Linked DNA regions of Homo sapiens. The protein of the gene in region 5 purifies or fractionates together with the protein of the main gene of each other region. This does not show direct contact. Each region holds a gene or a part of one and is shown on either strand. Other genes may lie near its edges.

What was found.
Region 1: the proteins of ZC3HAV1 (region 5) and NIFK purify together in Homo sapiens (affinity purification with mass spectrometry; 3 studies listed by BioGRID and IntAct, with this or other methods). This does not show direct contact.
Region 2: the proteins of ZC3HAV1 (region 5) and EBNA1BP2 purify together in Homo sapiens (affinity purification with mass spectrometry; 2 studies listed by BioGRID and IntAct, with this or other methods). This does not show direct contact.
Region 3: the proteins of ZC3HAV1 (region 5) and YBX1 purify together in Homo sapiens (co-immunoprecipitation; 3 studies listed by BioGRID and IntAct, with this or other methods). This does not show direct contact.
Region 4: the proteins of ZC3HAV1 (region 5) and RBM19 purify together in Homo sapiens (affinity purification with mass spectrometry; 2 studies listed by BioGRID and IntAct, with this or other methods). This does not show direct contact.
Region 6: the proteins of ZC3HAV1 (region 5) and STAU1 purify together in Homo sapiens (affinity purification with mass spectrometry; 3 studies listed by BioGRID and IntAct, with this or other methods). This does not show direct contact.
Region 7: the proteins of ZC3HAV1 (region 5) and PUM3 purify together in Homo sapiens (affinity purification with mass spectrometry; 2 studies listed by BioGRID and IntAct, with this or other methods). This does not show direct contact.

The regions. Positions count from the first base shown.
Region 1 is NC_000002.12:121,726,876-121,730,375, forward strand, and holds the end of NIFK (MKI67 FHA domain-interacting nucleolar phosphoprotein), read right to left. Parts: intron 1,686-3,500; exon of another isoform or gene 1,662-1,685; coding exon 1,602-1,661; exon of another isoform or gene 1,482-1,601; coding exon 1,413-1,481; exon of another isoform or gene 1,038-1,412; coding exon 849-1,037; 3' UTR 70-848; downstream 1-69.
Region 2 is NC_000001.11:43,166,488-43,169,290, forward strand, and holds part of EBNA1BP2 (probable rRNA-processing protein EBP2), read right to left. Parts: intron 2,542-2,803; coding exon 2,452-2,541; intron 749-2,451; coding exon 673-748; intron 433-672; coding exon 339-432; intron 1-338. UniProt on the Homo sapiens protein: Required for the processing of the 27S pre-rRNA.
Region 3 is NC_000001.11:42,688,918-42,692,417, forward strand, and holds part of YBX1 (Y-box-binding protein 1), read left to right. Parts: intron 1-3,500. UniProt on the Homo sapiens protein: DNA- and RNA-binding protein involved in various processes, such as translational repression, RNA stabilization, mRNA splicing, DNA repair and transcription regulation.
Region 4 is NC_000012.12:113,826,826-113,830,325, forward strand, and holds part of RBM19 (probable RNA-binding protein 19), read right to left. Parts: intron 1-3,500. UniProt on the Homo sapiens protein: Plays a role in embryo pre-implantation development.
Region 5 is NC_000007.14:139,082,221-139,085,720, forward strand, and holds part of ZC3HAV1 (zinc finger CCCH-type antiviral protein 1), read right to left. Parts: intron 1,813-3,500; coding exon 1,560-1,812; intron 1-1,559.
Region 6 is NC_000020.11:49,125,835-49,129,334, forward strand, and holds part of STAU1 (double-stranded RNA-binding protein Staufen homolog 1), read right to left. Parts: intron 1-3,500. UniProt on the Homo sapiens protein: Binds double-stranded RNA (regardless of the sequence) and tubulin.
Region 7 is NC_000009.12:2,830,596-2,834,095, reverse strand, and holds part of PUM3 (pumilio homolog 3), read left to right. Parts: coding exon 1-65; intron 66-663; coding exon 664-739; intron 740-2,751; coding exon 2,752-2,845; intron 2,846-3,067; coding exon 3,068-3,134; intron 3,135-3,500. UniProt on the Homo sapiens protein: Inhibits the poly(ADP-ribosyl)ation activity of PARP1 and the degradation of PARP1 by CASP3 following genotoxic stress. Binds to double-stranded RNA or DNA without sequence specificity. Involved in development of the eye and of primordial germ cells.

The DNA.
Region 1 (3,500 bases), on a different chromosome or scaffold from region 5:
TCCTAGCCTTAAGTGATCCTCCTGCCTCAGCCTCCCAAAGTGCTGGGATTACAGGCACAAGCTACTACATCTGATGGCAATGTTTTTAATGAGTCTGAATTCGTTAATGAAGGGGAAAATTTATTATTTTTTTTTCCCAATGACTCCCAAGTCCTACTCGCAAACAAATACATTGTAGAAAAAAGTTTAATTGCTGGTTATTGTTTGAATCTTGAAATACAATTCTTCACTGATGATACTGGTATAAAATGGTGGTTATTAATTCATGCTAGCACAACCAAAACTAATTTAACATTATTGGTAAAAATGAGTCATTTTTGAATCTCTATTAAAATCTGAACACATAAACAAATCTGTGCTAAAACTGGAACTGCCTTCTCACTCTACATATAATTAAACTTCCAGCTTCAACCATCTGATGTTGAAATCTAAAGCACCTCCATGAGTTAAATGTCCCCGACAAACCATGTAGATGGACAAACAAGATTGGTGGTCTTTAATTGCTGGCGACAGAAAAGGCTGCAGTTTAGTACTTAAACCTGCAGTTAGTGGTCAACTTTCTATCCAGGCAGAGTAAACTAAGGAGAGCTATGAAATATCAAAAGAAAACTAGAGGCCAGGACAAAGAGGCAATGTCAGCCAAGCCACTGCAAGATGGTATGCACCCCTGTATTTCAGCCAAGGGCAGGCAATCCAAAATTACACACTGCTTTCCTTAACTTGACCAAACAGTGTATTTTTCCTCTGAAAATCTTGTCAAAGGTTGTATTCCATTGTACCTAGTGAAATACAAAGTCCACTCTCATAAAAATATTATATTTTTCAAAAGAAATATAATACATTGAAAATCACTGATTGCTGCTTCTTCGTCTTTTTTTCCGTGAATGTGTAGGTGTTTGAGTCTCTTGTATTTCTTCTTTTACACAGGATATGGGCTGTTTGAAAACTATTTCATCATCTTTATCATCATCATTCAGTTCAGCCACTTGAGATTTTCGCCTCTCCAAAAATGTTGGTGTACAAACTGGTGTGGGGCCCTGGATTCAACAAGTAAAGATTATAATACATAAATGTAAAACATGATTATGACTTTACCCAAAAATATCATCTCTCCTCTATTTTTACAAGTTGTGCCCCATTATTTTAGCTCTGTTACCATCTTTTGGTGATACTATTGCAAAGAATAAAGAACTTAGATGCTTATCAAACTTGGTACAGAAATTCACAATTAACAAATATAGCATGTTCCATTATAAGGTTTTAGGCAGAAAATTGCTAAATCAACAATAAAGATCTACCAAATGTCACAATATTTAATTTGAAATCTTAAAATGAGAGTAGCAGAAACTGCTTCTCCTCCTTCAAATTATTTCTATAATATCTGGTGTCTGGAGTATTGAAAACCATTTTACCTGGCTATCCACAGTCTTCTCAGGAGTGTCAAGAGTACCTGAAACTTTTTTCTTCTTCTTACGTAAAACCTTAAAATAAATTTTAAAACACATCAATTTGAATATTGATCAGCTACAGTAGTCTTGAATATGTTTTCCTACTTATCCTTCTCTAATATCTTGCATGTAAAATGATAAAAAAAATTTTACCTGGCCTTTTGTAGACGTCTGACGATTAGTTTTTGAAATACTTTCCGTTTTCTGTAAAATCTTTAATAAAGAAGTTAGAAATTGACACTCATATCTTTTCTTTCTAAACTTAGCATTAGATCCTCATATATATTATCAGTAAATCCTCCCTAAATGACAAGAGCATTTCATTTTAAAAAATCAAAACTCATAAATACAGTGAATTATCTCAAGTAAAGGGCAAAACTAGGAAAAACCCAGTAGAGGAATTGACAGAGCTGCAGAGGTTGAAGGGAAGGCCAAAACCTGGAGCTCACTGATTCACAGAATCCTGAATTCAGGAGGGTGGAAGCAGGAAGAATGTGCAAAGGCAGGCCACCCCCATCTCCTAAGTCACAAACAGGGTACAGGAAAAGCAGTGCTCACATGCCTCTTTTCAAGTTTCACTGTCTCAGTTCCCAAATGGTTCACAAGAGTACCAGGGCCTAAGGCCTTGGCGAAATATTCTAATACTATTAAAGACAGTATTTGGGATTTGGGCAAAAAATTAACCACCGAGAATTGAGGCAAAGGAGGGTAACACGGTCATCTAGTTTCTGGATAAGGTTAAAAACCTAGTAAATTGGCTGGGCGCAGTGGCTCACGCCTACAATCCCAGCACTTGGGGAGGCCAAGGTGGGTGGATCATGAGGTCAGGAGTTCGAGACCAGCCTGGCTAACATGGTGATGAAACCCTATCTCTACTAAAAAAAATACAAAAAATTAGCTGGGTGTGGTGGTGTGTGCCTGTAGTCCCAGCTACTCGTGGGGGCTGAGGCAGGAGAATCGCTTGAACCTGGGAGGCGGAGGTTGCAGTGAGCTGAGATAGTGCCACTGCACTCCAGCCTGGGCAACAGAGGGAGACTCCATCTCAAAAAAAAAAAAAAAAAAGAAAAGAATGAGACCTTTACCTATACTAGCCATACCATAATAAGCTTCATTCTTGATCTATAATAAAAGACATAGCTCTCCTCACTGTGACAGATGGAGGAAAGGGTCAGTGTTTTGGTATCTACTTATAGCATACAGTAAACCAAAGACTTAATTCTGGCAGTGTCACCTCTGAATGACAATCTTTTTCTTTTTTAGCGATACGGTCTTGCTCTGTTGCTGAGGCTGGAGTGCAATGGTACAATCACAGTTCACTGCAAACTTGAAATCCTAGGCTCAGGAGATCCTGTTGCCTCAGCCTCCTGAGTAGCAAGGACTACAGGCACACACTACCTCAACTGGCTAATAAATGGCAATCTAAGAGTATTACAGTCTTTAGTTAAATAGTGGGTTTACTTCAGTAACTTAAAACAGAACATGTAAGTTAAACAAATCAGATTATCTCCTTAAAAGAAGCTTCCTCTTCTGTATAATAGAAATAACAGAATCTGGTCTCATAATGTTTTAGGAAGAACCTACAATGGAATGTTTCAAAAGTTTAGTCAGGCCAGTCATGGTGGCTCACACCTGTAATCCCAGCACTTTTGGAGGCTGAGGTGGATGGATCACCTGAGGTCAAGAGTTCGAGACCAGACTGACCAACATGGTGAAACCCCATTTCTACTAAAAATACAAAAAATTAGCCGGGTATGGTGGCACGCACCTGTAATCTCAGCTACTCATGAGGGTGAGGCAGGAGAATTGCTTGAACCTGGGAGGTGGAGGTTGCAATGAACTGAGATTGTGCCACTGCACTCCAGCCTGCCTGGGCAACACAGCAAGACTCTGTCTCAAAAAACAAAACAAAACAAAACAAAACAAAAAAGGATGGGTGCAGTGGCTCACGCCTGTAATCCTAGCACTTTGGGAGGCCGAGGCGGGCGGATCACCTGAGGTCAGGAGTTCAAGACCAGCCTGACCAACAAGGAGAAACCCCGTCTCTACTAAAAA
Region 2 (2,803 bases), on a different chromosome or scaffold from region 5:
AGTTCCAGCTACTCAGGAGGCTGAGGCACAGAATTACTTGAGCCCAGGTGGCAGAGGTTGCAGTGAGCCAAGACTGTACCAGTGCACTGTAGCCTGAGTGACAGAATGAGACTGTCCAAAAAAAAAAGAAGTTTAAAAAGTGCCTTCTTTTACTCTTCAAAGACTGACATGGCTAAAAGGGCCCATCACACAGTCATAGGGGTCCTGGCCCCAGGCAGCAGCTGCACTCTCTGGACTCTATGGCTGCGCCGGTGGAGGTGCTATGTCTGCCATACTCGTGACCTGTGGCCCCATCGCACCTCACAGAACCAAAGAAACCATGCCAAAACCCTTCTCACCCCTTCCTCATCTGCTGGCCTTTGGCTCCTGCCTTCTTGCGCTGTGCCAGAGGTTTCTGATCTCCCTCAAGGAAATCCAGTTTATCAGAGAAGCCTGTAAGTGAAGAAGTAGTTTTGATCAGCACCATTGTATTTTAAGAATAAAAGTTTAAACCACCATATGAGGCTGTTATTTGCTACACTGATTTTAAGAGTCACATCCTGCTCTCCAACACCATTCCCAAAACTTTGATCCGACAGGTCCACATCAACCAAGAAGGCTCCAAAGCACTAAGTGTTCAAATCAACTCTAAAGTACCTGCTACCCTCGTTCCCCTATTAGAGATGTACCAACCTTTCTGATATTTCTTAATAGCATTCATCATATGGGCTTTCTCCTGCTGCCTCTTCTGAAGAACCTCCGTTTGCACCTGTGATATGAACACAAGGACCGTTACAGCCATTCCATACCATTACTCCAGTGTCTACATTGTCTTAATAGCAACACCATGATTAATACCACTACCCTCTGACATTTACTACGTGCCAAAAACTGTGTTAGGGACTCTAAGTATATTCTCAGATCTAGGTATATTCTTCATAGATGAAGATATATCTGTCTCATAACAATCCAGTGAAGTTGAAATTTGTGTTATCCCCTAAACTGAAGCACAGGGAAGTTAACTTGCCCAAGTCGCACAGTGAAAAAATGCACAGCCAAGATGACCCAGGCTGTTTGACTCCAAAGCCAGCACTCACCCTATTATACAATCCTGCCTACAAAACTGAAGTAAATCATGTTTAAGACTACATCGATTTTTCGCATCACATTTGGACAGATTAATTATCTAACTCACTGTTACTAGGCATGAAAGTACCAAAAGGAAGAGAAAAAAACAATGTCCCCAGGTAAAGAAAAGAAAAAAGTTTGAAGGATAAAAGGAGACACTTTATAATACTCTAACAGAGGGTTTCTCAATCTTGATACTGCTACAGTGTGGAGAGAATAATTCTTTGCTGGGGGGTAGGGGCCTGTCCTACACTGTAGGATATTTAGCGGCACCCCTGCCCTCTACCTACTAGATGCCAGTAGTACCCTCCCTCCCAAATTTGACAACTAAAAATATCTCCAGGCAGTCACAGAAAACTCTTGGGGAGCAAATTCACCCCCAGTTAACAAACTCTTCCCCAGTGTTTCCTTAAATTAGGAACAGTGAACTAATAGGCCCAAGTGAGTTTGTCTTTGCTTTTGGTAACTTTGGCTATGTTAAATTAATTACTGGTGTCTTTGAGAGAATCTCAGCCATCCACCTCCAGATCAAAGAAATAATAAATCCGCAGCAGGCCTTTTGTAGAGGACAGGATCCCAGCCTATTCCTACTTTGCTGAGAATGTATCAGTGAAATGACTCCAAACGTGGACAAGAGTTCTGCAGCCCAGATCACAAGTGCTTATGTCCAAATGTTGACGAAGTCTTAACACCCACACCAATCTTCCTCACATTCATTTCTTCCCACAATCCTAACTTTAAAATCTGTCATCTTCTTTCTTAGATGACCATGAAATAAAAAAGGAAAACCAAGAAAAGTTTTAGGGTATGCCTGATCTGGTGTTACATTAGAACTCAGACATTCATAGTTCAAACACGCAGGCAATCTTTCAGATTGGATGACAATCATTATGATAATTTCTTCAGGTACGTGATTATCACATAGATCAGTGAATCCCAAACCAGGATGCATTTCAGAATCACCTGGAAAGCTTTTGGGGAAGAGGGGAAAACAGGCACAGATTCCTGGGGATTCTGAAGTCTAGAATTCTGTTTTGAAAAATTTCCCCTGGTGATTTTGCTATAAGGTCAGGTTTGGAAACCACTCATCTGGACCCAGTGTACAGATGTGAAAACTAACGCCCAGAGAGGTGATTGGCTCACCTGCAGTCACCATACTACTCCTGGGGAACCACTCATGTCCAGGCAAGATTGTGCTCATGAATACCAGCACATACACTGAGAGACGGTAAATACATGATCAACACACAGTTCCGTTCAGTTCAGGGGACCAAGTCAGACCACGGCAATCTCATCTAACACACACTCCGCCTCTTCCTGTTCCCTGCACACTTTTCTTCTCACCTTCTTCCCGTATTTCCTAAGTGCTCGCAGTTGCTTAGCTTTTTCAGACCTCTCCATGGCAGCCTGTTTAGTCTGCAGCTTCTGTCGAATCTACAACACAAAATGCTGTCAGTTCATGTCATTTGAATCTGGAATGACCACTACTTAGGATTCGCTAGAGCAGGGAACAGATATTCCCTGTTCTTTAAACTGCGGAACTTATAAATCATCAGTTCCAACCCCTGAGGACAATGGGGCCCACAGGCTGAGCACTTTACCAAAAGTGCCAGAGTGAAGCCAGAGATTGAAAGTCACCTTCCCGCTCCCAGTGTGCTGTCTGTTTCATTATACAAACTGCCTATTTGTAGCCCAG
Region 3 (3,500 bases), on a different chromosome or scaffold from region 5:
ATATAAGACAGAAAATGTGTTAAGGATTTATGTTACCAGTAAGGCTTTCCAGTCACGAGTAAGCCATTAAATTTTGGAAGAGTCAAAAGTTACAGGCAGATTTCAACTGTGCAGCAGGTTGGCACCTCAAACTTCTATCCACCCTCATAGATACTGAGTTATTCAAGGATACACTGTATTACCTTCCTGTCCCCCTAGTCCTGGGGCTGCAGTTGCTGAGTTTGCTACCCTCCAGTCTTAGCCCTTGGAAACATACAGTTTGTCCGAAGGCAGAATCATAGACAATATGTGGGAAACAGAAGTGAGTCTGTTGGGTGTGAAGGGTGTTTAATAGAGAAGAAATACAAAGATAAGTGGACATTATTATCTTACAGTCATCTACAAGGCTTGGAAATTGGTATCTGGTTGCTTTAGGTTATGGAGCATATAGATGGTAAATCCTGGAGTTTTTATAACCACAGGATTGTAAATTAGTGTATGCAGTTACGTGAATTAAGGTGTTAGACTAGTGTGGTCTGGTGATCTGCAACAAAGTAGTAGTATAAGAGCATTTAGTTACGGATAAATTTATGTATAATAAGTCTTATTTAAGGCAATACTGTGGATTGGCAAAAAAGTTTTCTAAAATTTAGCTTATTTTTTATGTAGATATACAGCTAGGATAAAGATAGTTATGTTTTAAAAGGAGTGGGAGGGGGGTCAAACATGGTGAACATGCTGGAGTAGAGTCCGGGAGTTTGGATGGATTGGGCCATGAAAAGCAAATGCTAGAATTCCTAGTTCCTGTGGCATGGAGAATTATCTGGCAAGCTGTAATTGTCTTTTGACTTACTAAAAAGTTTTCCAGGGAAGTTAAATTTTTTTGCCTTTGTTTTCCCATTTTGAGTTGCATTTTGTCTATTTTTAAGACCCTTACCAATCTGGATAGGCCATAGTATAGGAGTGGTAGCAATTAGATTTTAATTTAGAAATCTGGCTAGTATTAGTGAATAGTAAATGCCCAATAAATACTAAAAAGATTTGAGTACCTACCTTAGTAATGTAAGTTATTAAGTGTTTAGTGTAGTTTTTCTCATTTTGCAGGTAAAAAAGCCAATGAGGCAGCTTTCCTAGGTTACACAGCTGTTAATAGTTGAGTCAAGACTAAAAATCTAGCAGGGCGTGGTGGTGCATACCTGTAATCCCAGCTACTCATGGCTGAAGTGCAAGAACTTGAACCCCGAAGGCAGAGGTTGCAGTGAGCCAAGATCGCTACTGCACTCCAGCCTAGGCAACAAAGTGAGACTCCATCTCAAAAAAAAATTGAGTACTGTTATTTCTTTTTCTTTTCTTTTTTTTTTTTTAAGATCTGCAAAGGGGTTTAATAATGCAAATATCACATATATTTCCATTTTTAACACCATATTTAAGTTTTCCATTTTCTTAACAATAGAAAGTGATAAAAATGTTTTTCCCAATGTAATAATACAAATGGAAAATATTATAGACAGTCATACACTAACCCAATGAATAAGATTCACCAGAAGCAAAATCTATTTTGGGGGTCCTATATTGTTACATATATACAGGGCACCAGAACCACATTTAGACTAATACTTTTTATTTCTAGTTAAAACAATGCAGGGCACTCCTGTGACCTGCAAATCTAATTGTACATATGTATGTGTCAGACTGTGCAGGTGGCCAAGAAGAATAGAAAGAAAGACTTTATCCAGCTTTGGAGTTCAGGGCCTGATTGCCCCAGCTTTAGCCCATAGGAACTTGACAGCTTGTTCATACCTCTCATCTTTAGTCATAGTTTCTCTTTCTCCAACCCCTTTTCTCCCTAACTACCCTGTGCCATTTAGACTGGAAATTCTAACAGGTAGCTTTTTCTTTCTGAATTATCTTTACTACTGTATAATTTTTATTTTCAGAATATTCCTTATTTCTACATCTTGAAGACATTTCTTTCTAGTAGATGGGGGAGCTAGAGCTTACATTCACTGCCGGAAAAGGGTCAGTTCCAGTGTTAATTTCCCAGCAAACACCTGAGAGAAAAACTGAACAGAAAAGAATAGTGATGGCTGGCAGAGAGTGACACCTGCACCCAGAAAGCTGCACTGCAGCTGTCTAATATTTGAGGGTCTCTTTTGTTATAACTGCCAGTTTAAACTAGAGATTCTGGCTGGTTGCAAATTCAAAGCAGATCAATACATTTAAATCACTGGTTCAACAAATCACTCTTTTTAATGGTATAATGTTTTTATTGCAATTGAGGACGTTTTCAGTAAATACCTTGAGCTTGAGGCCCTGGCTAAGTATTCCTTTTGCAATACTGTTTTTACTGTCATGACACTGGTCAGTGAACTGTGTTAGTTTCACATATCTATCTATGTACCCACAAAACACCTCCCTGTCTTTGCAGGAGTGACATTACCCTGTGTGTAATGGCAGCCTTGTGCTTTCTCTGTGCAGAGACAGGGTCTTGCTCTGTTGCGCAGGATGGAGTACAGTGGCATGATTATAGCTCACTGCACCCTCATTTCCGGGACTTGAATGGAGGCCCGGCTAATTTTTTATTTTTTATAGATATAGGGTCTCGCCACGTAACTACTTTTAATTATTTTTATTGCCGGGTATGATGATATTGATATGTGAATACCTGTTGTAACTACATTAGAAGGCATAACAAACAGTCAGAGCCACCACAAAATGGATTGATAAAGAAATGATGTATTACCCAGATACCATGAGTAGCATTATCAGTAATGAAAAATTCTCCACAGAAGCTGCATTTTTAGTGAATTTAATGCGTATTAAAACAGTACAGAAATACATACATGACTCAGATAACAATAAACAAATTTACTTTCTATACCAAATCTTTACATAGTCTTCTAGCAACTAACACCCACCACTTCCATTAATGCAGATAGTGCTCCCTATCTTTGGAAAAAAATTTTATTTTTTTATTTTTTTTGAGATGGAATCTCACTCTGTTGCCCAGGCTGGAGTGCAGCAGCTCACTGTAACCTCCGCCTCCTAGCTTCAAGCAATTCTCCTGCCTCACCCCCCAGAGTAGCTGGGACTATAGGCACACACAGCCACGCCTGGCTAATTTTTTGTAATTTTAGTAGAGACGAGGTTTCACGATGTTGGCCAGGCTGATCTTGAACTCTTGGCCTCCCAAAGTGCTGGGATTGCAGGCGTGAGCCACTGCACCCGGACTGGAAAAACTTTAAATACCCTGCCAGGGGAAGTATTGCCCCTGTTGAAAATCACTATTCTAGACTTTGCCTGTATTTGCCTTTCTTACTCTACCAGTTTTTTATTGTATTTCCCCTTAGAGCCTTAGAGTTTGAAATTCAGTCATATTGGAGAGCAGAACTAATAAATGATGGCTGTAATCTGTTTTTGTGGTGCCTATGGAGTTATGGACAGATGGACATTAGGTACAGCCATCATTTCCCTAGGCAATCCTAATCATCTAGCTTGAAAGGTCAGTTTTCAGTCACTTG
Region 4 (3,500 bases), on a different chromosome or scaffold from region 5:
CAGTGAGCACTCATGGGGCGGGGGCTCTTACGCGGAGCCTGGCTTTGTGGCCTTGATGAACCAAAACATCTCATTCCTTTACCTGCCAACTATGTACTCATGTATCATAAGCCAGCCTCCGTGCTCCTGGGCCTGGCATATCTGCCAGGGTTCAGGCTGGGCCCCCAACTGCCCCCTGGAGGACATGTCAGGCCCCGAGTTCCCACCGAATGACACCCCGCACCTCCCGCTGGCCCTGCTTCCTTGAGGAGCACCCTGTTTGCAGCGAACAGCTGCTGAAATCCCACTTCCCCGACATCAAAAGCCTCAGTGGGTTTTCACCAAACAAACATAATGCAGAACCGGAGAAAGGTGTAAAATAAATAAACGAAACAAGCTGTGCATTTTCTTTCAGTATTACAGCTGCACCCGAAGATAAACAACAAGTGAATGTCACCAAACATCAATACCCGAGAAATTAACTTGACAAAAAGCTCAGCCATCCCCCGACAACCCCCCAGTCCTGCCCCCCTCCCCACCAACCTCCAACCACCATTTTTGCATTTCTGGAGTTCCCACCTAATGATTTTATTTTTCAATTAATTCCTTGACAGAATGCCAGCCTGTGTCTCTCCCTTCCCTGGCTGGCGCTGTCGGCCCTGCATGGGAGGCGCAGGCAGGCAGGGAGAAAGGCGCAGGCAGGGAGAAAGGGCGGGGGGGCGGGGGGGTGCGTCGGGAGGACAAGAGAAAGCGCTTCTTGGGGTTTTGTTCTGGAAGCAGACGTTGAGGAAAGGCAAGCCGGGGGAGAAGAGCGTGGCTGATAAGGGGAGAAGGGAGTTCTGAAAGGAACCCTGGGATGAGGCAGGCGTGAACAGTCCGGGGAGGGGAAAAGCACTGGGCCAGGAAGCCCAGGGCTGGATTCTGAGTGGAGAGGCCTGAGGTACAGGGTGGAGGGTGCTAGATGCAGGGTGCTGGGTGGGTGAGCTGCCAGGATCAAACCCTGCTGCTCCTGGCTGGGCAACCTTGGGTAAGTTGCTTCACCTCTCTGGGCTCCTCTCAGTTTCTGCAGTTACTGAATGGTGATGAAATCTACACGCCTAGGGTGTGTGAGGGTATTAAAAGAATGAATATATGTATGTAAGGCCCTCACAATAGTGCCTAGCACACGGCAAGCTGTCAATATAGGTTGGTCATTCTTACTGCTGTTGATGGAATCTGTTACTGAGAGCACGAGGGTGGGCTGCTCCCCTCCTCTATAACACGATGATAGCAACAGCAGCTCTCGACTCTGTCTCAAAAAAAAAAAAAAAAAAAAAAGTGACCAATGGGATGGAGCAGGGCCTCCCACTGTGGGCCCACAGAAGAGTGTCTGGATTTGCTGACATGATTTGCCATGAATACAGAAATCAGTGACTAATGTTCAAAAACAGGGAGATGCTACATAAGAATCTGCACCTCTCGTTTCTCTTGAACCTGGAATGGCTAACCTGTGAGTGTGGCAGACCTGTCCCCTCCCTGCCTACAGGTAACTGATGAGGCTGTGCACTAGCTGCCCCTGGAGACACGCAGCCTCACTTATGGGGGCTTTTCTTCCTGTTCCTGGAGGCTCCTGAGTTGCTACTTCCCGAGACACAGGATAGGCAAGGCTTCCACAAACTCCGCTAAGTCGGAGACAGAACTGATTCCAAGAGGCCGGGGTGAAGGGCAGGGGGCGGGGGCACAGGTGGGCGAGGGGAGGAAGGAGGTTGGGGCAGAGTGTGGAGGCCAGAATGAGGCTCCACAATCTTCAGACTCAGTGGTGTGCAGTCCTAGGCTGCTGGGGGACACCAGCCACCTGTAGCTCCCACCCTTGGGGAGTATGAGGGTGCCATGATGTGGGTACCGCAGGGGGGCTGGGCACCCGGGGGCTGGCCTGGCTTGGGAGGCTGCCTGCTCTGGAAGGCTGGCTGAACCAGACCCCCACCCTCAGCTGCTGGTGCCTCTGCATGGGTCTCTCCCTGTCCTCCCTGGCTTCATATCTTGCAGCCCCCACGGGCAGAGCTCTCCTACCCAGATAGGTCTGCATCTCAGGGCTCTGTGTACAGCAGGCACACATCAGGTACGCACAGAATAAAGGGTACTCTTCAGGAGACTGGCCTGGCTCCTAAGACCAAGCCAATGTCCCTTTATTGATACAGGAGGCTGTTTTAGGGCTGTGCCTTTTTTTTTTTTTAAATAGACAGAATCACACTGTCACCCAGGTGAGTGCAGTGGAGCGATCTCGGCTCACTGCAACCTCTGCTTTCCGGGTTTGAGTGATTCTTGTGCCTCAGCCTCCCAAGTAGCTGGGATTACAGGCGTACACCACCAGGCCCAACTAATTTTTGTATTTTTAGTAGAAATGAGATTTCACCATGTTGGACATGAGCTCAAGTGATCCACCCGCCTTGGCCTCCTAACGTGCTGGGATTATAGGCATGAGCCACTACGTCCAGCCAGTTGTGCCTTTTTAAAACACAGCGAGTCCTTCTAAGAACTAGGTATGATCTGAGAGGGTCCTTGTGCAGAGCGGGTGGGCAGGAGCCTGGGCCGCAGACTGGCCTCTGCCACTGTGGGACTCCCAGGAGCTGCTAAGCTCCTTACCTCAGTGTTCCCACCTGTTAAACGGGGACGGTGCCTGCTCTGCTTATCTCATGGGGACCGTAAGGATTCCTGCCTTCAGTCACTCTTAGCAAGCATGACCCAGCATATTCTATGTGCCAGGAATGATGCTGGGGATATGGCAGTGAACAAAACTCCACAGGATAAACTAAACCACCAGCCATGGGGGCCACACTGGGGCTCAGGGTGGACAGGACGAGGTGGGACCTGAGTGCTGCCACTTGGTGGTCCCAGCCTTCTCTGAGTTACCAAAGTTACTCTTCTGCAGACAGGACACAGTAGTAGCACCCACCACAGGGGATTTGATGAGATAAAGCATGAGAGCACTTAGCCCAGGGCCCGGCCCGTTGAGGTGCCAGGCAAACATGAAAGCTAACAATCAAAGGGTCCTGTGAGGCCACCCCAGAGGACAGGCAGTGCCCAGCAAAGGGGAAATCCAGCTGCCCAAGATAAGGCCAAGGGGCGAGCTGCAGGGACCACTCCTCAGGCGCCTGCTGGCTCTAAGCAGCAGGCTGGCTCTGGACTTTCCTACAGAAATTCCACCAGCTAGGCAACATCATTGTCCCACTTTTCAGATGAGGAAGCAGCCGCACTAGGACTCTGAAGAGTCAAGTGGTCACACTTTCCAAGCAGGACCTTGAGCTCAGATAGGGTTGGCTCCAGCCTTACTGGCACAGCATAGCAAAGCCTGCCCCGCAGAGGGGGACACTAGCCCAGCCTCCCTAGGATGGGGGTCTCAACAGGAAAAGCATGAACAGACCCAGGCTATGTAGCAGCAATTTCCTTTTCAAAGGCCATTGGTTCTCAATCCAGCTGTCTGGTAGCATCAGCTAGGAACCCACTGATGCCTGGATCCTACCTCCAGAGGTTCTGATGCAAAT
Region 5 (3,500 bases):
GTCGCACCACTGAACTCCAGCCTGGGTGACAGAGTGAGACTCTGTCTCAAAACAGGAAAGAAAAAAAAAAGTAATAGCACTTCATACTCCTTAGGATGGCTATTATTAAAAAAAAAAATCAGAAAACACAAAATGATAGAGGATGTGAGAAATTTGAACCCATGTGCACTGCTGGCAGAAATGAAAAATGGCACAGCTGCTACAAAAAATGGTATGATCGTTCCTCCAAAAATTAAACATAGAATTACCATATGATCCAGCAATTCTACTTCTGATTATATACCCCCGAGGAACTGAAAACAGGGTCTCAAAGTGGTATCTGTACACCATGTTTACAGCAGCATTATTCACAATAGCCAAACTGGAAATGGCCCAAATATCCATCGACAGATGAATGGATAAAAAATTTATAATTATATACATACAATGAAATATTCATTCTGACATATGCTATAACATGGATGAACCCTGAGGACATCATGCTAAGTGAAATAAGCCAGTCAGAAAAGGATAAATATTGTACGATTCCACTTATATGAAGTACCTAGGGTTGTCAAATTCATACAAACAGAAAGCAGAATGTTAGTTGCCAGGGGCTGGGGAAAGAAGGGAATGGGAGTTATTGTGGCTTTTTTTAGAAATTTTAAAATATTGGTTTTTTTTTAAAGAAATGGCACTGAGGACCATAAATTAAATTATACATAGTTTTGCATCAATAATAAATTTTCTGTATTAATTGTCTTGTGATTATGTAAGAGAATGGCCTTGTTCTGAGGAGATACATGCTGATATATTCAGGTGTGAAATGTCATGATATTTACATATATCAAATGCTTTAAACACCAAAATGTTCTACGTGTGTGTGAGTAGCTGCATGTATACATAGAGAGAAAGAAAGTGCTAAAGCAATTGGGACAAAATGTTAACAGCTGATAAATCTAAACAATTTTATGTTTGTTTCTTTTCCTTAAAAAAAAGCTTTGTTAATTAGTTTTTAGAAAAATGATATACACTTTTTTAAACCTGGGGGGGGGGGCAATAGTGCTAAGCATAAAAATTGAATTGCAAACACTGCATGTATACTACCATTATAATTATGTAAAAATGGTGTATACATATGCATGAAGTTTGGAAGGGAAAATGAAGAGTTTTACACGGCAAGGTAGAGTGATTATGGCAGTTTTTCTTTCCTTGTGATTTCTGCTGATTTGAAAGTTCACACAATTGGCCGGGTGCAGTGGCTCATGCTTGTAATCCCAGCACTTTGAAAGGCTGAGGCAGGGAGATTACCTTAGGTAAGGAGTTCAAGGCCAGCCTGGCCAACATGGCGAAACCCCGTCTCTAATTTATACAAAAATTAGCTGGGTGTGGTGGTGCACACCTGTAATCCCAGCTACTCGGGAGGCTGAGGCAGGAGAATCACTTGAACCTGGGAGGCAGAGGTTGCAGTGAGCTGAGATCACGCCACTGTACTCCAGCTTGGGTGACAGAGAGAGACTCTGTCTCAAAAAAAAAAAAAAAAAAAGAGTTCACACAATTGAAAAAGAAAAGGCCTTTACCTCTGGGCCCTGGGGGATTCTTCTGCATGTGCTTGCTGTTGCAGATGTCCTGGATGTTCTGGACCACGTCGGGGTTCAGCCCGTGCTCCCTCATGATGGCCAGCACCTTTCTGTCCATCAGGTTATGGGACCGGAGGCAGTTGGGAAAACGACAGTTCCCTCGGGTGAAGTGGTCACAGATGTGGAGTCTTGAACACGGTGGCTGCTGGTTACAAATCTGCTGCCGACCCTCTCCCTTATAACTTTTGCATATCTACAGAAGGGAGAAACAACAGCCAGAGTCAAAACACCTTCTTGTATTTGCCAAACATTCATTAAGGCAAGCTCACGTGTGCAAAAATCTCTGAAGCAAGCAGAGATATACCAAAGGGGGAAAAATACATGCATATTCTGCAGTCTTTGATGAGTCACATTCAGTTGGTGATTTACTTGGGGCAGAAGAGGTCCACAGACTAACCAAAAGATACTGATCAATTTGATAACCCTTGGAAGAATCAATGTAAGCTGGTTAGCTACAAACAGGACCCAAAGTGAGCCCTATATCATGAAGGAACCCAGCACAGGAAGGCTCATCTTTGGTTATCAACTCACTTTGCAATGAAAAGGACATGTGGGTCTTACCTGCAACTGTTTGGAAATCCAAAATTTAGACTCTGCTAGGCAGAATGACATTTCTCAAAAGATTGCCTAAAGAAGATAAGTTTTGTATTTCCATCTAAATAGATACATGTACGTGACTAGCTCTGAAGAGATGTAGTCCCTACTGGAAAGAGGGCAGAGAAAATACTGCAGCTGAGGCCACGCCATATGATACAGAACTGGAGGATGCTGGTTTTAAAATCTGAGGCCCTGGAAGCAGCTGTGTGACCTCAAGGGATCCCTTACCTACTCTTAGCCTCCGTTTCCTTTGCTGTAACAGGAGGAAAAGATTTGTTCTGTCTACAAAAACCAAGTTGTTAAGCAGACTAAATAGCAAAATTTGTAAATGCGTTATGCAAAATATAAAGTGTGATGCACGTGTTTGAACCATGAAATGAGGAAACCAATATAATTAGTAAGAAACCTGAATTTCAGACATTTTAATGAGTCACTTCGATAGACTCTGAGCAAACCAGATCAGTATGGTTCACTGTGATCTGTCTAGATGGCAAGCCATGATTCAAACCCCACTAGCAATGATTTTGCCACATGGATAATCGCTAAAACCTGATTCAAATAGATATATGTAACTGCTATCAAGTCTATGATCCAGATTCTAGACTCTAGACCAGCAATTCTCAAAGTGTGGTCCCCGGACCAGCACCATCAGCACTACCTGTAAATTTGTTAGAAATGCAAATCTTCAGGCACTTGCCCATATCTATAGAGTCTGAACCATCAGAGGTGGGGCCCAACAGTCTGTGTTTTAACAAACCTTCTGGATGATTCTGATGTCCGCTAAAGTTTGAGCTGTAGCAAAAAAGCACCATTAGCAACTTCACAAATGATGTTTTGGTAACATTCCTATTCCCACGCCGATATTAAGCAAGAATGCTCCTGCCTTCATTAGACCAGAACAAATGAAAGCATTTCTTCCTTTAAGAAGCACATTTCAATTGTACAAGTTTATATATCAGGCAGTCAGGTTTGCCTGATCTTTTTATGTTCTCACAAGTCAAAGCAAAATGAAAAAGTGTGAATACGTAGTTTTTTAGGGCTGAGTGTGTGGCTTCCCACTGGTTACCTCCAGTATTTTAACATTGTGACTAACACTTGCAGGTGCTTTTAAATGTTAGTTGAATGAATGCAAAGCAATCAATGAAGTGACTGGAAACATTTCACTGTGGTCCCCATCTCACACCCCCTAAACCACAAAGCTGTTTCTCTGCACTGCCTCTTACACTTAACTTCGCCCCTCTCTTCCTCCTCTTTCCTTCTGATAAAATCCAAATCAGCCAGGCA
Region 6 (3,500 bases), on a different chromosome or scaffold from region 5:
TCCGTCTCAAAAAGCAAGCAATGAAATTAGTTACCTACAACAGGTGTGAGGGATTAGGGTAGACAGACGGGATGAGACGGGAATGATAGTTTTGACTTCTGGAAGCATTTACTGTTTTACATATTAAAGAAATAAAACTAAGTCAACAAAGATGGGGAAAGAATCTAAAATTAAACATGAACAGAAAGTTAGCTGCATATTAAAGTGATTACAATCTCCAAATGGACCAAAGACCTACACAGAGGCGCTAACATGCACAACTCTCAGAAGCAAAAACAGGCGAGTCTTCATGACTTTGGGTTTGGCAATTGGTTTTTAAGATATGAAACTAAAAGCACAATCAACAAGAGGGAAAAAAAAAAGTCACACTTAATCAAACTTTAAAACTTTTGTGTATCATGGACATTATCAAGAAAGTGATTACAATAACACAGATAGAAAATCAGGCTGGGCAGGGTGGCTCATGCCTGTAATCCCAACGCTCTGGGAGGCCAGGGTGGGAGGATCACTTGAGCTCAGAAGTTCAAGACCAGCCTGGCCAATACAGCAAGACCTTGACTCTACAAAAATAAAAACAAAATTAGCCAGGTGTGGTAGTGTGCCCCTGTATGTAGTCCTAGCTATGTGGGAGGCTAAAACAGGAGGATCACTTAAGCCCAGGAGATCAAGGCTACAGGGAGCTATGATCACACAACTGCACCCCAGCCTGGGCAACAGAGCAAAACCTCGTCTCAAAAAGCAAAAAAAAAAAAACAAAAAAAAAACAAAAAAACTTAAAAATCTAACCGATATTAGCCAAGACACTCAAAAAGAAAAATAGAAGACTTACACTACCAGATTTTAAAACTTCCTATAAAGTCACAACAACTAGGATATGGTTTTGTGTAAGGATAAATAGATCAACAGAACAGCACGAAAAAGACCTGCACATATAAGGTCACTCGATTTTTGGCAAACACACCAAAACAAATTAAAAATCTCTTAAAAAAATAGTACCAGAGCAACTAACTAGGTATCTGCATGGAGCGGGGTGGGGGGAAGAAAAAAAAATCAAACCATGATCTCTAACTCATACCACAACAAAAATTAGACCTAGGATCACTTAAATGTGATCTAAACTAAAATTACAAAGACTTTATAACAGGAGAAAGCCTCAAGACTGTAAGGCTGGCAAAGAGTTGAACACAAAAGATATCCACCATAAAGAAAAAAGAAATTCCTCAAAATTAAAAACCACTGGCCGGGCGCGGTGGCTCACGCCTGTAATCCCAGCACTTTGGGAGGCCGAGGTGGGCAGATCACGAGGTCAGGAGTTCGAGATCAGCCTGGCCAACATAGTGAAACCCCGTCTCTACTAAAAATATAAAAAATTAGCTGGGCGTGGTGGCGGGCACCTGTAATCCCAGCTACTTAGGAGGCTGAGACAGGAGAATTGCTTGAACCCAGGAGACGGAGGTTGCAGTGAGCTGAGATGGCACCACTGCACTCCAGCCTGGACAACAAGAGCGAAACACCATCTCAAAAATAAATAAATGAATAAAATAAAAAATAAACTGCTCATCAAAAGACATTTAAAAAGTAAAAAAGGGGGCCAGGTGCAGTGGCTCACGCCTGTAATACCAACACTGTGGTAGGCCGAGGCGGGTGGATCACCTGAGGTCAGGAGTTTGAGACCAGCTTGGCCAACAGGGTGAAACCCTGTCTCTACTAAAAATACAAAAATTAGCTGAGTGTGGTGACACATGACTGTAATCCCAGTTACTTAAGAGGCTAACACAGGAGAAATGCTTGAACCCCAGAGGCGGAGGTTGCAGTGAGCTGAGATCGCGCCATTGCATTCCAGCCCGGATGACAGAGCAAGACTTTGTCTAAAAAACAAAAAAAACTAAAAAAGGGGCCAGGCACATTGGCTCACTCTTGTAATCCCAGCACTTTGAGAAGGCCAAGGCGGGTGGATGGCTTCAGTCCAGGAGTTTGAGACCAGCCTGGGCAACATGGCAAAACCCCGTCTCTACAAAAAAAATACAAAAATTGGCTGGGCTCGGTGGCTCACGCCTGTAATCCCAGCACTTTGGGAGGCCGAGGCAGGCGGATCACCTGAGGCCAGGAGTTTGAGACCAGCCTGACCAACATGGAGAAACCCCATCTCTACTAAAAATACAAAATTACCTGGGCGTGGTAGCGCATGCCCATAATCCCAGCTACTCGGGAGGCTGAGGCAGGAGAATCGCTTGAACCCAGGAGGCAGAGGTTGCGGTAAGCTGAGATCACGCCATTGCACTCCAGCCTGGGCAACAAGAGCGAAACTCTGTCTCAGAGGAAAAAAAAAAAATACAAAAATTAGCCCAGTGTGTGGTGGCGTGTGCCTGTAGCCCCAGCTACTTGGGAGGCTGAGACAGCAGGATCACTTGAGCTCAGGAGGTCGAGGTTGCAGTGAGGTGAGATCATGCCACTGCACTACAGCCCGGGTACCAAGTGAGTTCTTTTCTCTAAAATCAAATAAAATAAACTTGTTATTTCAAAATATACATATTTCCTAGCTCTATCTCCTAACCGAGAGCCATGGCTCTCCAGCAGGAACAAGCATGCTAGCACCCTGTCCTGTCTCTACACACCACTCCCAATTAGAAGGAACCGGATCTTCTTGGAGGAATGGCCAAGACCATTTCTATTAGAAATTTATGTTTCCACTGGGGCTAAAGCTAGAGCAGGGGAAGTTCAAAGTGAGGCTAAAACATTTTGTTGTATCAGAAAGCATGGAAGTTCTCAAAATGTGAAGAGGGGAGGTGCAAAGGTTATTTAATAAAGGACTGTCTCAGCCAGGCATGGTGGCTCAAGCCTGTAATCCCAGCCTGGGCGACAAGAGCAAAACTCTGTCTCAAAAAATAAAGGACTGTCTCTTCAACAAACAGTGCAGGCACAATTAGACATCCAAATCCAAAAAAAAAAAAAAAAAAAAGACAAAAACATCCCTTATGTCACAGTATATATGAAAACTAACTCGAAATGAATTATAAACCTAAATGTAAGAGCTAAAACTAAAATTTCTAAGGAAAATGACTTTAGGTTAGCCAAATGTATCTCAGCATACACAAAAATTATTAACTATAAAAAATTTAACAAACTACACCTCACCAAAATTCAATACTTCTGCTTTTTGAAAGTCACTTAAAATCAAACGACAAGCCACAGACTTAAGAGAAAATATCTGCAAAATACTTATCTGAGAAAAAACTTGAATTCAGAATATATATAGAACCTCCAAAACTCAATAATAAAAAGACACTCAAAAAAACTGGCAAGATATAAACCTATATTTCATCAAAGAAAATAGTAAAATAAAAACACGAAAAGAAGCTCAGTATTGCTAGTCTTCATGGAGATATATAAATTAAAACCACAACAAGATACTACTGACTACCTGCTAGAATGACTTTAAAAAAAAATTTTTTTTTTTTTTTTTTTTTTTTTGAGACGGAGTCTCACTCTGTCACCCAGGG
Region 7 (3,500 bases), on a different chromosome or scaffold from region 5:
CTCAGTGATAAAACCAACTATGACATTGTTGTTCGGGCAAAGCAGATGTGGGAGATTTTAAGAAGGTAATTCTACCTAAAGATGCCTTTGTTAGTCCCTTTGCAACAGTGGAGAAGTCAGTGTACCTTGTAAATAGTGAGATGTCCTAAAATAAATGACATAGCACTTGGGTTATTGAGGGGGTCCTCATGACACCCCATTAGAGACATCAGTACTTGGAAGTCTGCCCGTCACAGAAGTGTGTAGAATCATTATGATGGCATCGGATATGCTTATGAAAATGTATGAGGTTGAAATAAATTTGACATTCTTCCTGAGAGATTTCTGAGAAAATGAAGGACAATTTCTTATCAGCTAGATTTTGAGATACTTCAGTATTTGTTATCTTAGATTTGTTTTATTATTTTTTTTACTTCTGAAGTTCTGGCTGTTAAGATTTGGATTGATACCTAAAATTATACCTTTTGAGATGAGTTTCTGCCTTTGAGAAAATTACTTTTGTCTGGCTGCTCTGGAATAGTAATTTTAATGGCAGAGGTTTGCTGCCTTAGAAAAGAAAATCATGCTGAACTTGGAGAACATATACTGGTACAGTTTTTAATTTTGTGTGTTTAAAATAACTTCTTTATTTCAACTGTGTTTCCTTCCTCTCCTCATTTGTAGAAAAGACTGTGACAAAGAAAAAAGAGTAAAGTTAATGAGTGATTTGCAGAAGTTGATTCAAGGGAAAATTAAAACTGTAAGTAGCATATACTCATTGTTGCAATTTTTAACAGTTGAAGTTGCCTCACTCTCAGGAGTAGCTGACCATTCATGACAGATGATCTTATCATTGTTTCCGGTGTATTTGGCCAAAAGTTTTAAATATCTTCCATAACACTGAACTACATAAAAATTTAAAAGTGAGGGACCTTACTGCTAGGGAGTTTTGAAAAGATTATCAGTCTTTTCAGTCATTTTTTAATAATTCTTAAAATAAGCCAGTGTTTCCTTAAAGTTATCTTGAGAAGTTTATTAGTTCAGTAGTATTTTATAAATGTGTTGTTCTAAACTCCATATAATTTAGTATGTTCTCAATTGCCAACTTCTTTATATTTGTGATGTGAACATATTACTTCATTCTTTTCCTCCATGCTTTTGTAAACATCATGCGAAGATCTTTAACTAAAATATAATCATTTCAGAATTCTAAAGTAGTTTTCATTGTTGCTGCTTAATCCTGTTTTGTAATAAATTTCCTGTGACTCTTGTGTATTTGGATTAATACATAATGGCTTGGAAGACAACAGATTCTCATAGTTTTACGGCACCTGGAGGGGCAGCCTTTGTCAAGTCAGATGCATAGGTCTAACCAGATGCTATATTACAGTTTGAAGGAAAGTAGCAAGTCATCAGCTGCCGCTTTCTTATAAATTCAGCAGGATCTTTTTACGATAGGACTGCCCCCTCAGCTCCGACAATTTATAAATATTTCACTCAGGATTCTTTCTCAACTACCCTGAGGTCACAGCTGTATGACCATGGTGTTAGAAGTGAGTTTGGTATTCAAATCCTGGCTGGGCTGCTTAAAATATGTGTGCCTTTAAACAATAACAATAACTTCTTTATTGATTATTTACTATAGGCTAGGAATTGTGTTAACCAGCACATGCATTGTGTCGTTTACTGTATGTCATCATCCGTGTTGTATATTTGATGTATCTGGGACTCAGGGAAGTAAGATTCTTCCTCGGGGTAATAGAGATAGCGAGTTCCTTCTCATAACCTTACTTCCCTCATCTGTAAAGTGGGAATAGTAACAGCTCATTCTTATTGTTGCTTTGAGTTATAAATAAGAACACTATGTTTAAGGCATTTATGTTGATTATATAATAGGTGCTCAATATATGCACAAAAACAGCCTTATTTTTTTAAGAGATACTTAAGAGATGTCTTACAAATCTTGAAATTTATGACTTTGATGGAAGTATACACTCACCTGATTTGTTGGAATTCAGAAACTTTAGAGTGAGCAACAAATAAGCACTTTTGAAGTAGACTGGTACTGTGGCGTAGTGAAAATAATTTTGCATGATGGATGATTCGTGGAGGGCGCTCTAGAAAATTGGTCAGTGGGTCCTTCCAACAGTCATGAGGAGGAATGGGTTAGAGAATCAGATTCAAAACACAACAACTCTTCTAGAAATATAACTGGATATATGTGCAGGAATTATAATGAAAATGTGACAAATGGATGATTAACTTATTATATAATTGACAGTGTTTATGGACATAGTTGTATTTATTTCTTTAGGAAGACTTTTAGATTGATCTTACAGGTATACTTCTGGTTGCCAAAGCCAAACATTCTTAGATCACTTATATAAAAATCATACAGTAACAGACCTTTTAAACAGAAATATTTCCCTTTTAGGGACGGTAACTTATCAAAGAAATGAGAAGTATAGTCTGTATAATCATCAGATGGTTTGGTTTGCTTTGGTTTTAATTGCAATGAGAGGAGTCTTGCAAAATGGTTAAATTTATCCTTGCCTCAATGTCATTATTGTACCTATCAAATATGGTAGGCCTCAAAACAACAGAATGATGTTTTGTATAATTAAAACAAGTAGTTCTCAGTAATCTAGGTTTGATTTTATTCATGAAGACTACCTTTTTTTCTAACAAGAAATTCCAGAAGAGGTCACAATAAATTAGTGAGAAACATAAGTCTCAAAAGAGAATTAGTCTAACTCAAACTTTTTCCTGCAGATTGCATTTGCACACGATTCAACTCGTGTGATCCAGTGTTACATTCAGTATGGTAATGAAGAACAGAGAAAACAGGCTTTTGAAGAATTGCGAGGTATTTATTACATACTAAAGATTATGTTATCATTTGCAATAAGTCACTTGTTTTCTCTTAAAATACCCAAGACTGTCCTAGAAAACAATTTTTGTTTAGGTTTGTCTTCTCCAGATCCTTTTTTGTTTTTATTTTTTCCTTGCCTGGGACAAATTTCCTCCCTTTGTTTCCAGAGAACTGAAATGAGATCTGAAGTCACTGTAATGTATTTTTGTTTTTCAGATGATTTGGTTGAGTTAAGTAAAGCCAAATATTCGAGAAATATTGTTAAGAAATTTCTCATGTATGGGTAAGTTGTTTTATGTATAAAATACATTTTTTCTTTGTCTTTTGAAGACATGGTTTCCAACTGTGCTCAGATGCGAGATAGGAAGTCTGTGGTCTTTATAAGTAATAGTAATGGCTCTCAGCAGATGCTTGTGTTGTTTTTAGAGAGTATCATCTTAAATACAATTATCGAAATTAATGTAAAATTATGGTACTGCCTTCATTCCTAAAAAGATACATGAGAAATGTCCTGCAAATCTCCTTGAAATTTATGACTTTGATGGAGGTATACCCTCACCTTCTGATTTGTTGGCATTCAAAAGTTTTAAAGACAGAGTGAGCAACAGATAAGCACTTTTGAAGTAGACTGGTATTGTAGCATAGTAAA